2 linked regions of the Homo sapiens genome follow. The protein of the gene in region 2 purifies or fractionates together with the protein of the main gene of each other region. This does not show direct contact. Each region holds a gene or a part of one and is shown on either strand. Other genes may lie near its edges.

Region 1 (7,292 bases), about 99 Mb from region 2:
ATGATTCAGATGTTTGAGTTCCCGAACTACATCCAGTATCTGGGTAGTTGTCATTTTTAAACATTTCAAGTGGTGCATGGTTAGAGACTTGAGTCGGTCTTTGCAGGCCAGTAGAGCAGTGATGTCTGTGATTGAGGTGTTAGAAATATCCAAGCTCTCTAATCTTGGCAATGAGGCAACTTCAGCCAGGTCTTCATTGTAAAAGAGAACATTCGTGATGCTTAAAGCTCGAAGGCCAGAAAGCCGGCTGAAGCAGCGCTCGTAAGGATCCTCGAGGGAGAGAGTTAATGAATTCAGCACCAGGCACTGGAGATTCTGCTGGATCCATTTGTTACTGCCAAGCCCACTGATAATGTCTGTAATCGTGATATCAGCATTCACACCTGTGGCATCAAGTTCCACTAACTTGTGGTGGCAGAAAGCTTTCCGGAAAGCAACAGCAGAGATCTTTGCTTTGCGAATGCAGGCTCGCTTTAAGCGCATCTGGTTGCCCCTAAAAATACCCACAGTTCCATCATTCAATAGACCTGTGGAAAAACAAGCAGCGTTTTAAATTCAAAAAACAGTTAAAGAATAGCCAAAATTTCCATCACACTTTACATTTCCAAAGCGCTCCCATGTAACAGTATCTCGTCTGATAATCACAATTCATTTAGGTGAGATTATTATTGTTTACAACTTGTAGATGAGTAAACTGGGGCTCAGAGAGTGGCTTTCCAAGATCACAGGGCTAGCAAGTGGCAGAATCAGGACTGTGGCAGACATTATTGATATCCACTAACATCTAGTTCTTACCTTACCAGACAACTACATTTCCCAGCCCATCCCTGGAGTTAGCTGGAGCCATGTGCCTAGTTCTGGCCAATGCACTATATGTTGAAGCACCTGAGAGCCAGTGCATGATTTTCCATGCTGTCTTTTCCTGCTATGACAAACGAGGAGACTTCACGTTCTAGAGAGTATAGTTATATGAGGAGAAACCCTCCATCAGTTTGGACCCTAGGGTGACCATGAAGCAGAATCCTCTATGGACTTGCAGAGTTTATGTACCACAAGTGAGGTATAAACCTTGTGTTAAGGTATTTGATTTGTTACCAATACATTTCTAGCCTATCCTTTAAATTCACCTTAACATATTATTATACAAACACATATACACATAATATATTTAGCATGCACTTAATGCCTTGTAATTCATTAATAAACCACTAGCCAGATCTCAAACCTTATTAAAGCGATCTAGGCCTGGGAAACATAGCAAGACCCCATCTCTGCAAAATAACTGAAAACGAGTTGGGCACAGTGGTCATGCCTATAGTCCTAGCTACTAGGGAGGCTGAGATGGAAGGATCATTTGAGCCCAGGAGTTTGTGGTTATAGTGAATTATGATTGCACCATTGCACACCAGCCTGGGTGACAGAGTGAGAACCTGTCTCTGAAAAAAAAAAAAAAATATATATATATATATATATAGTAGTTACAGCTTCCCCCCACACTCCCCCTCCTGCAGATGAATGTAAATGAAGTCGACACAGTAACCTCTTGAAGTGCCTTCGAGATCTACCTGTCTACCAATCAACAGTGTCACAAGCATATGATACTCTGGAGGCACATCAACATATCACATATCAACTAAACAACATTGACTGTGAAAGAAGTAACAATCATGCCAAAAACAGGTAGTCTAAGAATAGTATGGGGTGAATGAGCAGTTGAGGACAGGTAAATAAATAGCCTGAAGTCATGAGAGGAACTCTAAGGCGGCATCTTAGCTGGCCCATACTCAAAATGCAGCTAGGCTGCCAGCCAGTCACCCTTAAATTAGAAATGAGGTGTTTTTAAAAGGGAGCACTATTCTCTAATGAGTTTTGCAGACTTAATTACAGTTACACAGTTAAAATCAAGAAAGGCCTGTGCAAAACCTGCCAAAGTGGACAAAAATGACTAATTACATATTAAGAACTCCATTACATTTTAGAGCTGTGCTGCCCAATACATAGTCACTAGCTCCACACAGCTGGAGAGCACTTGGAAAGCAGGTGGTACAAAGTGAGGTCAGCTATAAAGTACAAAATATACACCAGATTGTGAAGACTTAATACAACAAAATAATGTAAAGTATCTCAATTTTTTATATATACTACAGGTTGAAATGATCATTTTTTAATATATTGGGTTAAATAAAAATTATTAAAACTCGTTGCACTTGTTTTTCTTTTTATTTTTTTATGTGGCCACCGGTAAATTTAAAATTACATTTCGATTAAACAATGTAGTTCTAGAGACAGCCTTTCAAATTACCTGCACTCTATTTCAGGAGAGTAAATTTCATGATGGGGTCCATTCAGCAAACAGTTTATTAAACAATTACTATATGTCAAGTACTCTAAATGTTGTAGATACAAAGAAAAATAAGATATGCCCCTATAGTCAAAGGATTCATAATCCCATGGAGTAAAAAAGACACAAACAGCCATAACAAAATGAGATATATGGTATATCAATGTCAAGTATAAAGTATCACAAAAACAAAGAAAAGGAAGTAAACCATCATGAATGAAGATCTGGAAAAGATTTGATGGGAGAGGTGATCTTTGAGTAAGGCCTTTGAAAATGCTGGAAGAATTCAAAGATAGAGAAAGGAGGTTAGTAGGCCAGGTGCAGTGGCTCATGCCTATAATGCCAGCATTTTGGGAGGCCGAGGCGGATGGATCACCTGAGGCCAGGAATTCGAGACCAGCCTGGCCAACGTGGCAAAACCGCGTTTCTACTAAAAATGCAAAAATTAAATGGGTGTGGTGGTGCGCGCCTGTAATACCAGCTACTTGGGAGGTTGAGGCAGAGAATCACTCGAACTTGGGAGGCGGAGGCTGCAGTGAGCCGAGATGGCGCCACTGCACTCCAGCCTGGGCGTCAGAGCAAGACTCCATTTCAAAAAAAAAAAAAAAAGAGGAAGAAGGTTAGGTATATTAAAGCAAGAATATACAACATAAGCAAAGTCTTAAAGATGTGAAAGCATATCACGGGGTTAGGAAATGGCAAGTAGTTCTTTCTATATTGCTTGAACATAAGAAATAGCTAGAGCCATAGATGCAGTGCATTTCTGGGGATATAAGCATGCAAATGGGACAGAAGAAATGAGGCTGAAGGTGAGCTGGAGCTAGATCACTCTGAAAGGTGAAGAGATGAAAGCAGATCAGCTAGGGGGGACCTTGGGACCCATGGAACAACGCAGAAAAGTTCCTGGTTTTTTTCTGGTCATATATCCCAGATCTAAAGTTGAAGGAGCCAGCAGCCTGGAAACACCAATGGGCACAGACAAAAACCTCCCCCAAAATCTGCTCTCTCTAGCCAACGTACCAGGAAAGCAGCAACTAGTAAGACAGGAAACAGCTAGTAGACAGTAACTGCTCTACTTCAGCCAAACACGACAGAAAAAACTGCAGCTCCACCCATGCCAGCAAATGCCAATAGGGGCCTAGATTTCTACCCCTGCCAGGCTGTAATTACTTGCCCCAATCTGCCCACAGGGGAGGTGTTAGAGAAGTCTGAGTAGAGAGCAAGGACTTTCATTCCTGCTGGGTAGTAAGAACTATCCCCCACCACGATGTTAGTAGATACCTTCTGGGGAGCCTGAACTTCAACACTCATCAAGCAGCGATGAAGTTCTCTACCTGCTTCCCTGCTGGGGTGCTGTCATAGGAAGTCTAGTGGAAAGTCAGGACTTTCACAACTGCCCAACAGTAATGAGGCCACCTCCTCCCAACATGGTGTCAGTAGAAGCCAACTGGGAAGCAGAAATGACATACCCATACCCCTCTCATTTAGGGAAGTATCAATAGAATCCTAGTGGGGAGTCAGAATTCCAACCTCTGCATAGCCCTGCACCTTGGGTGTCAAGAGAAGCCAAGTGGGGAACCAGAAAGAACATTAACCCTAATCTGGCTGGGCATAGTGGCTCACACCTGTAATCCCAGCACTTTGGGAGGCCGAGGCGGATGGATCACAAGGTCAGGAGATCGAGACCATCTTGGCCAACATGGTGAAACCCCGTCTCTACTAAAACACAAAAAATTAGCCAGGCCTGATGGTGCCTGCCTGTAATCTCAGCTACTTGGGAGGCTGAAGCAGGGGAATCGCTTGATCCCAGGCGACGGAGGTTGCAGTGAGTTGAGATCGCACCATTGCACTCCGGCTTGGGCAACAAGAGCGAAACTCCACCTCAAATATAACATAACATAAAATAAAATAACAACATAACATAAAATAAAATAACAAAATAAAATAACATAAAATAACAACATAAAATAAAATAACAAAATAAAATAACATAAAATAACAAAATAAAATAAAATAACATAACGTAACAAAATAACATAACATAAAATAAAATAACAAAACAACATAAAATAACAAAATAAAATAAAATAACAACATAAAACATAACAAAATAATATAACATAAAATAACATAAAAAATAAAAATAACATAAAATAAAATAACATAAAATAAATAAAATAAAATAATTTTTTTTTTTTTGAGACGGAGTCTCGCTTTTCACCCAGGCTGGAGTGCAGTGGCGCGATCTGGGCTCACTGCAAGCTCTACCTCCCGGGTTCACACCATTCTCCCGCCTCAGCCTCTGGAGTAGCTGGGACTACAGGCACACGCTGCCATGCCCAGCTAATTTTTTGTATTTTTAGTAGAGACGGGGTTTCACCGTGTTAGCCAGGATGGTCTTGATCTCCTGACCTCGTGATCCGCCCGCCTCGGCCTCCCAAAGTGCTGGGATTACAGGCGTGAGCCACTGTGCCTGGCCTATAAAAATTTTTACAAAGAACATTAACCCCAATCTGGCAGTAACAAGGCAGTGCTCCTACCTTCCACTGCTGGAGTGACGTCAGTGACTCAAACTAAAACAGAAAAGTCTCATATCACCTAAAATGTCCTGGTTTCAATAAAAAATTACTCTGAATCATACTAAGAACCAGTAAGACTTCAAACTCAAAAAGAGATAATCAATATATGCCAACAGTAAGGTAACAGAAATGTTAAAATTATTTGACAACGATTTTAAAGGAGCCATAAAAAAATGCAATTAAATTTTCAAAAGTAAACAAATATGCTTGAAAAAAAATGAGTAACAGACCAGGCGCGGTGGCACTTTGGGAGGCCAAGGCAGGCAGATCATGAGGTCAGGAGTTCGCGACCAGCCTGACCAACATGACGAAACCCCATCTCTACTAAAAATACAAAAATTAGCTGGGCATGGTGGCACACGCCTGTAGTCCCAGCTACCCAGGAGGTTGAGACAGAAGAATCACTTGAACCTGGGAGACAGGGGTTGCAGTGAGCCAAGATCGCACCACTGCACTCCAGCCTGGGCGACACAGCAAGATTCTCCATCTCAAAAAAAAAAAAAAAATTTAAAAAAAATTTAATAAGGAAAAAAAGAAAAAAATGAAAACAGACTCAGCAAGGCAAGAGAAGATATAAAGAAGAATCAAATAAAAATTTTAGAAGTGAAAAATATAATAATGCTTGAGGTCAACAGTAAAATAGAGAACAGAGAAAAAAGACTGGTGAACTAGAAGATAAAACAACATAAATTACCTAATTTAAATAACAAGAACAGAATGGGAAAAAAACCAAAACCAAAAACCTAAAGCTATATTTGTGTCACTGGAATATCTCAAGGACAGGAGAAAGACAGTGTGGCTGAAAAAGTACTTAAAGAAATAATGAGCAGGCACAGTGGCTCATGCTTATAATCCCAGTACTTTGGGAGGATGAGACAAGAGGATTACCCGAGGCCAGGAGTTTGAGACCAGCCTGGGCAACATTGCAAGACTCCATCCCAACAACAAAAAATTTTAATTAGTCGGGCATGGTGGTACATACCTGTAGTCCTAGCTAGCTAGTCGGGAGGCTGAGGTCGAAGGGTCGCTTGAGCCCAGGAGTTTGAGATTATAGTAAGCTATGATTGCACTCTAGCTTGGGTGACAGAGTAAGACCCTGACTGGGAAAAAACAAAAAACAAAAAACAAAAAACTGAGTGTGGTGGCTCATTCCTGTAATTGGGAGGCTGAGGTGGGAGGACTGCTTTGAGCCCAGGGGTTCAAGACCAGCCTGCACAACATAGAAAGACATCATCTCCATTACAAATTTTTAAAAATTAGTCAGATGTTGGTGGCATGCACCTGTGATCTCAGCTACTTAGGAGGCTGAGGCAGGAGGACTGCTTGAGTCCAGGAGTTCAAGGCTGCAGTGAGCTATGATCATGCCACTACACTCCAGCCTGGGAAACAGAATCAGACCTTGTCTCAAAAAATAATTTTTTTTAATTAAAAAAAAAGATAGGCTGGATGTGGTGGCTCACGCCTATAATCCTAGCACTTTGGGAGGCCAAGGCAGGAGGACTCCTTGAGGCCAGGGGTTCAAGACCAACCTGGCCAACATAGTGCGACTCCATCTCTATTAAAAAAAAAAAAAAGATCACTCAGAAAAATTGGAAGCAGTGGTTTACATGGAGTTAAGGGAATTTTATCTGATGGCTTCAATTTTCTTCCTAAGATAAATGGTAGAAAGTCTGAGAAGAGCAAAGAACATCTGAAACTACTGTTAGGAACACTAGTTTACTGGGGAAATACTCCAGAACTCCTGGGCAGTGCCGAGGAGCCCGCCTTTATGTTACTGACTTCCCTCCTTGTCATTCAGGTCTCAGTCTAGTATCACCACTTTAGAAGCTTTCTCTGATCATCCAAGTTAAAACATCTCCCTTCCTTTATTATTCTTCTTAAGAGAACAGTGTTCTTTTTCCCTCAGAGAACCTGGCACAAGCTGTAATTCTATATGTTTACTTCCTAATTGTGTCTCCCACTGGACTATACGCTCCATGAAAGCAAGATTCATGTTGCATTCATTGTCTTATTTAAATATTCACAGTAATCCCTGTGAGGGAGTTATAATTATCAACACTTTACAGATGAGGAATCTTAGACTTGCAGAGTAACTTATCCAGGGTCAAAGAGCAAATTAATGTTGGAACCAGGACTCAGACCTAGGACCGATTTATAGAACTCATGCTCTTTTCTTATTTTAAAAAAATCTTGGCTGGGTGTGGTAAATTACACCTATAATCCCAGCACTTTGGGAGGCCAAGGCAGGTGGATCACCTGAGGTCAGGAGTTTGAGACCAGCCTGGTCAACATGGCGAAACCCTATCTCTACTAAAAATACAAAAAAAAAAAAAAAATTAGCCAGGCATGGTGGTGCATGCCTGTGATCCCAG
Region 2 (4,404 bases):
TCATCTTTCTAAATAACAAAGCTCTGTCACTCCCCAGCCCAAGCCCTTTGGAGGCTCCCTGTTGCCTGCAAGACAAAGTTCCAGCTCTCCATCAGGGATTATGAAGCCTTCCTGTGGTTTGCTCCTGCCCACCTTCTCTTTCCCTAAACGCCTGCCCTCCTCAACACCTTGCTCTTCTCCAAAGTCCCTGTACACTTTCACACCTCTGCACCTTTGTCTTACTTCTTACTTCCCTTCTGCCTGGGATATCCTCCTCTCCCCTGCCTGCCTAATGAACACCACTTAACTTTTGAGACAGTTCAGGAAGAGCTTCTTCTAGAAGATGTTTTCTGATTGCTTTTGTAGAGTAAAATTAGCCCTTCCTCCCGCTGAGATGACACTGCACTCATGATGGAAGCCAGGGTGGGTGTGGGAGGAGCGTGATAGGGCACTCTGACTTGGCACCTGGCTCCCGCATTGTGCATCTTGAGACCGGGGCCCTGTCTTTCACTTCTGGGTGCCTGGTGCCTCACACAGTGCCTGACACCTGGCGGGTACTCAGTAAATCTTTTCAGTCGGTGCTGAATGGGAAGGTGGGTATGTGAGATGCCCTGGAAGGATTTTGATTTCCAACCACAGAAAGGCCCTGGGCCGAGAATGGGACTGTGAGACTTTATTTACTCAGAGAAAAGGGTCCTTTCCCTCGCCTCACCAATTGCTGCTTGAGGACCCCTCCCTGCTCTTTGATGGGTCCCAGGCAGGCAGGGGAGGCAGGAGGCAGGAGGCAGGCAGGGGAGGCAGGAGGCAGGAGGCAGGCAGGGGAGGCAGGAGGCAGGCAGGGGAGGCAGGAGGCAGGAGGCAGGCAGGGGAGGCAGGAGGCAGGAGGCAGGCAGGGGAGGCAGTGGCTCTCCTGCAGGCACAGTGACTGTTACTGGGGAGACTCTTCTTCCAACTGCAGCTGAAGGAAAACACCTGCAAGAGAAGGGTGAGTTGAGCTGCAAGAGCTGCACTGAGATGGCTGGAGCTTGATGGACACTCTGAGCATTTGGCTGCAAATTACCCATTACCTGGGTCCTGTCCTTTCGTTACAGGTTGGATAACTCATATATAGAAAAAAAAATCCTAGTTCTGCTCTCCCTTGCTTCATCTGTGTCCCTAGTAGGTGCCCTATCCCACCCCTAAAGAAGCTGGACCGCAGCTTGGGATGAATCATTGGCATCTTTTCTTCCTCCTGTTTGTTCTGGGGGTGGGTGGTGGTGGGACGGGGCCTGGGGCTGGGCTGGGGGCTCCTTTACCTGAGGACTTGGCATAAACTGTCTGCTGGTCTCTGCTGTGGGCGATGCAGGACATGTAAAGCTTCTGGTCCTCAATCTTGTCCAGTTCTACGTCCATTACAACCAGAGAGTCCACGGGGATCAAGCTGGGAGACGAGGCAGCTTAGCCCATCTCTCATGTGAACCCGGTTCCCCATCCCTTCACTCTCTGTGTCCTCTTCCCTCTCTTCATCCCTCCCGGCCTCGAGGACTCAGAAGTGGCCCTGGGCTCAGGGCCTTTTTGTCAGCTCCCAAAGTTGGACAGCAGAGGCTGTGTCCTGGCCAGGGACTAGAGGAATTGCTTGGGAGTGGGCTGGGGAAGGAGAGTGGCAGGCAGGGCTCCTACACCCCAGCTGCCGAGGATGGCCACTTCCAGGGATGAAAAGGTCTGTGACTTTGGCCAATGCCCCAGGGGCCCATACTTACTTTTTGAACCTGATGTTGAGACTTAGTGTGAACAGCCCCTCTCCAGCCAGGAAGGCAGTTTTAGAAAAGGTCTCGTCCATCATGGCTGCCAGGGACCCGCCGTGAGCAAACCTGGGGGTGGGGTAAGGTGAGGAGCAAGGCCTGGGCTGGGGCTGCTGGGCAGACCCCCTCAATGGGCCTTCCCTCCCTCCTGTGGTGATCCTACCTTTCCCTTTCCCTAGACCCTTCCAAACACAGACGTTCAGCCTCAGGGCAGCCAAATAGGAAAGAAGGAAACAGCTGCATCCCATCTGATCAAACCCGTCAAAATCAACTGAGCTTTTCTGTTTTGCTTCAGCATGCGTTTGCAGCCAATGATACAACATTTTATTTCATCAGGGAAATTGTTTTTTTCTGATAAAGTTAATAGAAAACATTTTTCTGGTTCATTACCTAATTGCTGGCAATAATTGCCATAATTTGGAAGGATGGGCATATACAGGAAATGAAAAAGTCCCTGAACTTTTTGACTCAGTCTTTGAGGCACAACCCTGGGCTGTTTCTCACCTTACCAGTCACTACAGCCAGTGCGGGGCCCACATCTCAAGATAAGTAAATGTGAAACATAACTTATGACCTATCAAGGGCTGGCATGACACACTTCTGAGCAGCGTTGCCACAGAAAGCAGAGCGCCTGCTTCAGCAGGCTCAATGCTGAAATTGAGCTGAAATGCTCAAATGCCGCAGACATTTGCTTTATTTAGAATGCATAGAATGGCCAGTCGCAGTGGCTCACGCCTGTAATCCCAGCACTTTGGGAGGCTGAGGTGGGCAGATCACTTGATGTCAGGAGTTCGAGACCAGCTTGGCCAGTATGGTGAAACTCCGTCTCTACTAAAAAATATAAAAATTAGACGGGTGTGGTGGCAAGCGCCTGTAACTCAGCTACTCGAGAGGCTGAGACATGAGAATCGATTGAACCCGGTGGGTGGAGGTTGCAGTGAGCTGAGATTGTGCCACTGCATTCCAGCCTGGGCAACAGATCAAGACTGTCTCAAAATTAAAAAAAAAAAAAAAAGCGTAAAATGTTCATTCTTGCTTTTGCAAGCTTTATGTCAGCTACTTCATGGTTGGCTAATTTGGGAAAATAGGCACCCATTTTAGAATTCAAATAACACCAAGCAGATTTGAGTTCCTGATTTTCAAAAGCACAGCCCATTCTCCACAGAGCCAGATCAGCTGTCCACACTGTACTGCCATGGGTTACCCTCCTGCTGCTGTGACCAGTGGCTTTTCCAGACCCTTCCCTCCCTGCTTCTTTAGTCTCTATCCACCCAGTTGGACTCCTTGTCCCACAGCTCACTACATGTTTGATCTTGAGCAAATTGCTAAACCTTTCTGAGCCTTAGTTTTTCCACCATGAATTTCACAATTCTGATCTCAGCAGATTAAATAAACAAATGTTTGCAAACATAATTTACACACTTCTTAGGCACTTCCCTGTCTGCCTCCCAAATTGCTTGAAAGAGAGTGAAAAGAGTTGGTGTCAAAGAACTCGAAACCAACTCTCTCCTCCTTGTCCTCACTGGCCAGCCTGGGGACCCATTGGCCAGTATGTGGATCTACAGAGTAGCTCTTGGCCAACGAGTAACTCCTCCTTCCCACTCCCCATGGTCTAGGGGCCTGGTGGATACTAATCTCTTCTCTAGACCCCCAACCCCTCAATCCACTGACTGGCCTTAGTGTTGGATGGTCCTCCTCTGCCTCTTTGGCCTCACTTCCATCAGCCCCTAAATAAAAGTCAGCCATGCTTCAGAAAGGAGGGAGTCCATGGCCTGGGCAGGGCTCTGAGCAATTCACTAGTATCTGCACAGCCTAGTGTGTGGAGCAGTGTCCCTGTGGAGGACTCCTTTGGGATGGCCAAGGTGACTGAGGGCTGCAGTTGGCATCCACAGCCTCTGGAGGCCCTGACATCTATTTAGCACTCTGGATTCTATTTAACCCCAGTTAAGCCCCTCTCAGGCTTCAGGACCCTAAAGCCACTCCTGCCCTCTCTTGTCTCTCCCTTGCAGGAGCTCCAGCACCACCTCCAGCCTTCAGTGACTGTCTGGAGCAGGCATCCGGATGGAAGAGAAGGGGGACAACCATGAACTTGGTGACCCACGGTCAGCCTGATTTCCCTTGTGGACACATTTATGCCCAGTGTGCATTCCTCCTGAGGTCTGTTCCAAGTCTGGAGGCAGCAGAGTAGAGTGGAGAGAACAGTGGACTTGGAATCTCACCTCCCAGATTAGAGTCCTGGATCTGACTTTGATTGCTGGTGCTGCCTCGGGCAAGTTACTTTAGCTGTGTGCATCTCCATTTCCCCATGGATAGAACATGGGTTTTGGGTAGAAGTGTCTGATAGCTGTACTGTGCTTTACGGTTCATGAGCACGCACACATAGGCCCATAATATCATATCTCTGGTCACCCTGGCAGGTAGATATTATTGCCCCAGGTTTCAGGTAAGAAGACTAAAGACCAGGGGTCAATTGCTTGCTCAGAGTCCCACAGCCAGCAGCAGCCAGGCAGGACACCAAGTCAGAGTCTAGATTCCGGATCTTGCCCTCTTCCAAGTGTACCACATTCTTCTCAAAGTGGCCTCTCAGGTCTTTTGTCCAGAAAATTTTGAGACTTTGATGAGAAGCCCATATCTGCACACTGGG

The links.
Region 1: the proteins of THEM5 (region 2) and ZYG11B purify together in Homo sapiens (co-immunoprecipitation; 2 studies listed by BioGRID and IntAct, with this or other methods). This does not show direct contact.

What each region holds. Positions count from the first base shown.
Region 1 is NC_000001.11:52,764,255-52,771,546, reverse strand, and holds part of ZYG11B (protein zyg-11 homolog B), read right to left. Parts: intron 528-7,292; coding exon 1-527. UniProt on the Homo sapiens protein: Serves as substrate adapter subunit in the E3 ubiquitin ligase complex ZYG11B-CUL2-Elongin BC. Acts to target substrates bearing N-terminal degrons for proteasomal degradation with the first four residues of substrates being the key recognition elements.
Region 2 is NC_000001.11:151,846,464-151,850,867, forward strand, and holds the end of THEM5 (acyl-coenzyme A thioesterase THEM5), read right to left. Parts: exon of another isoform or gene 3,770-4,404; intron 1,830-3,769; coding exon 1,719-1,829; intron 1,400-1,718; coding exon 1,275-1,399; intron 952-1,274; coding exon 908-951; coding exon of another isoform or gene 657-907; 3' UTR 638-656; downstream 1-637. UniProt on the Homo sapiens protein: Has acyl-CoA thioesterase activity towards long-chain (C16 and C18) fatty acyl-CoA substrates, with a preference for linoleoyl-CoA and other unsaturated long-chain fatty acid-CoA esters.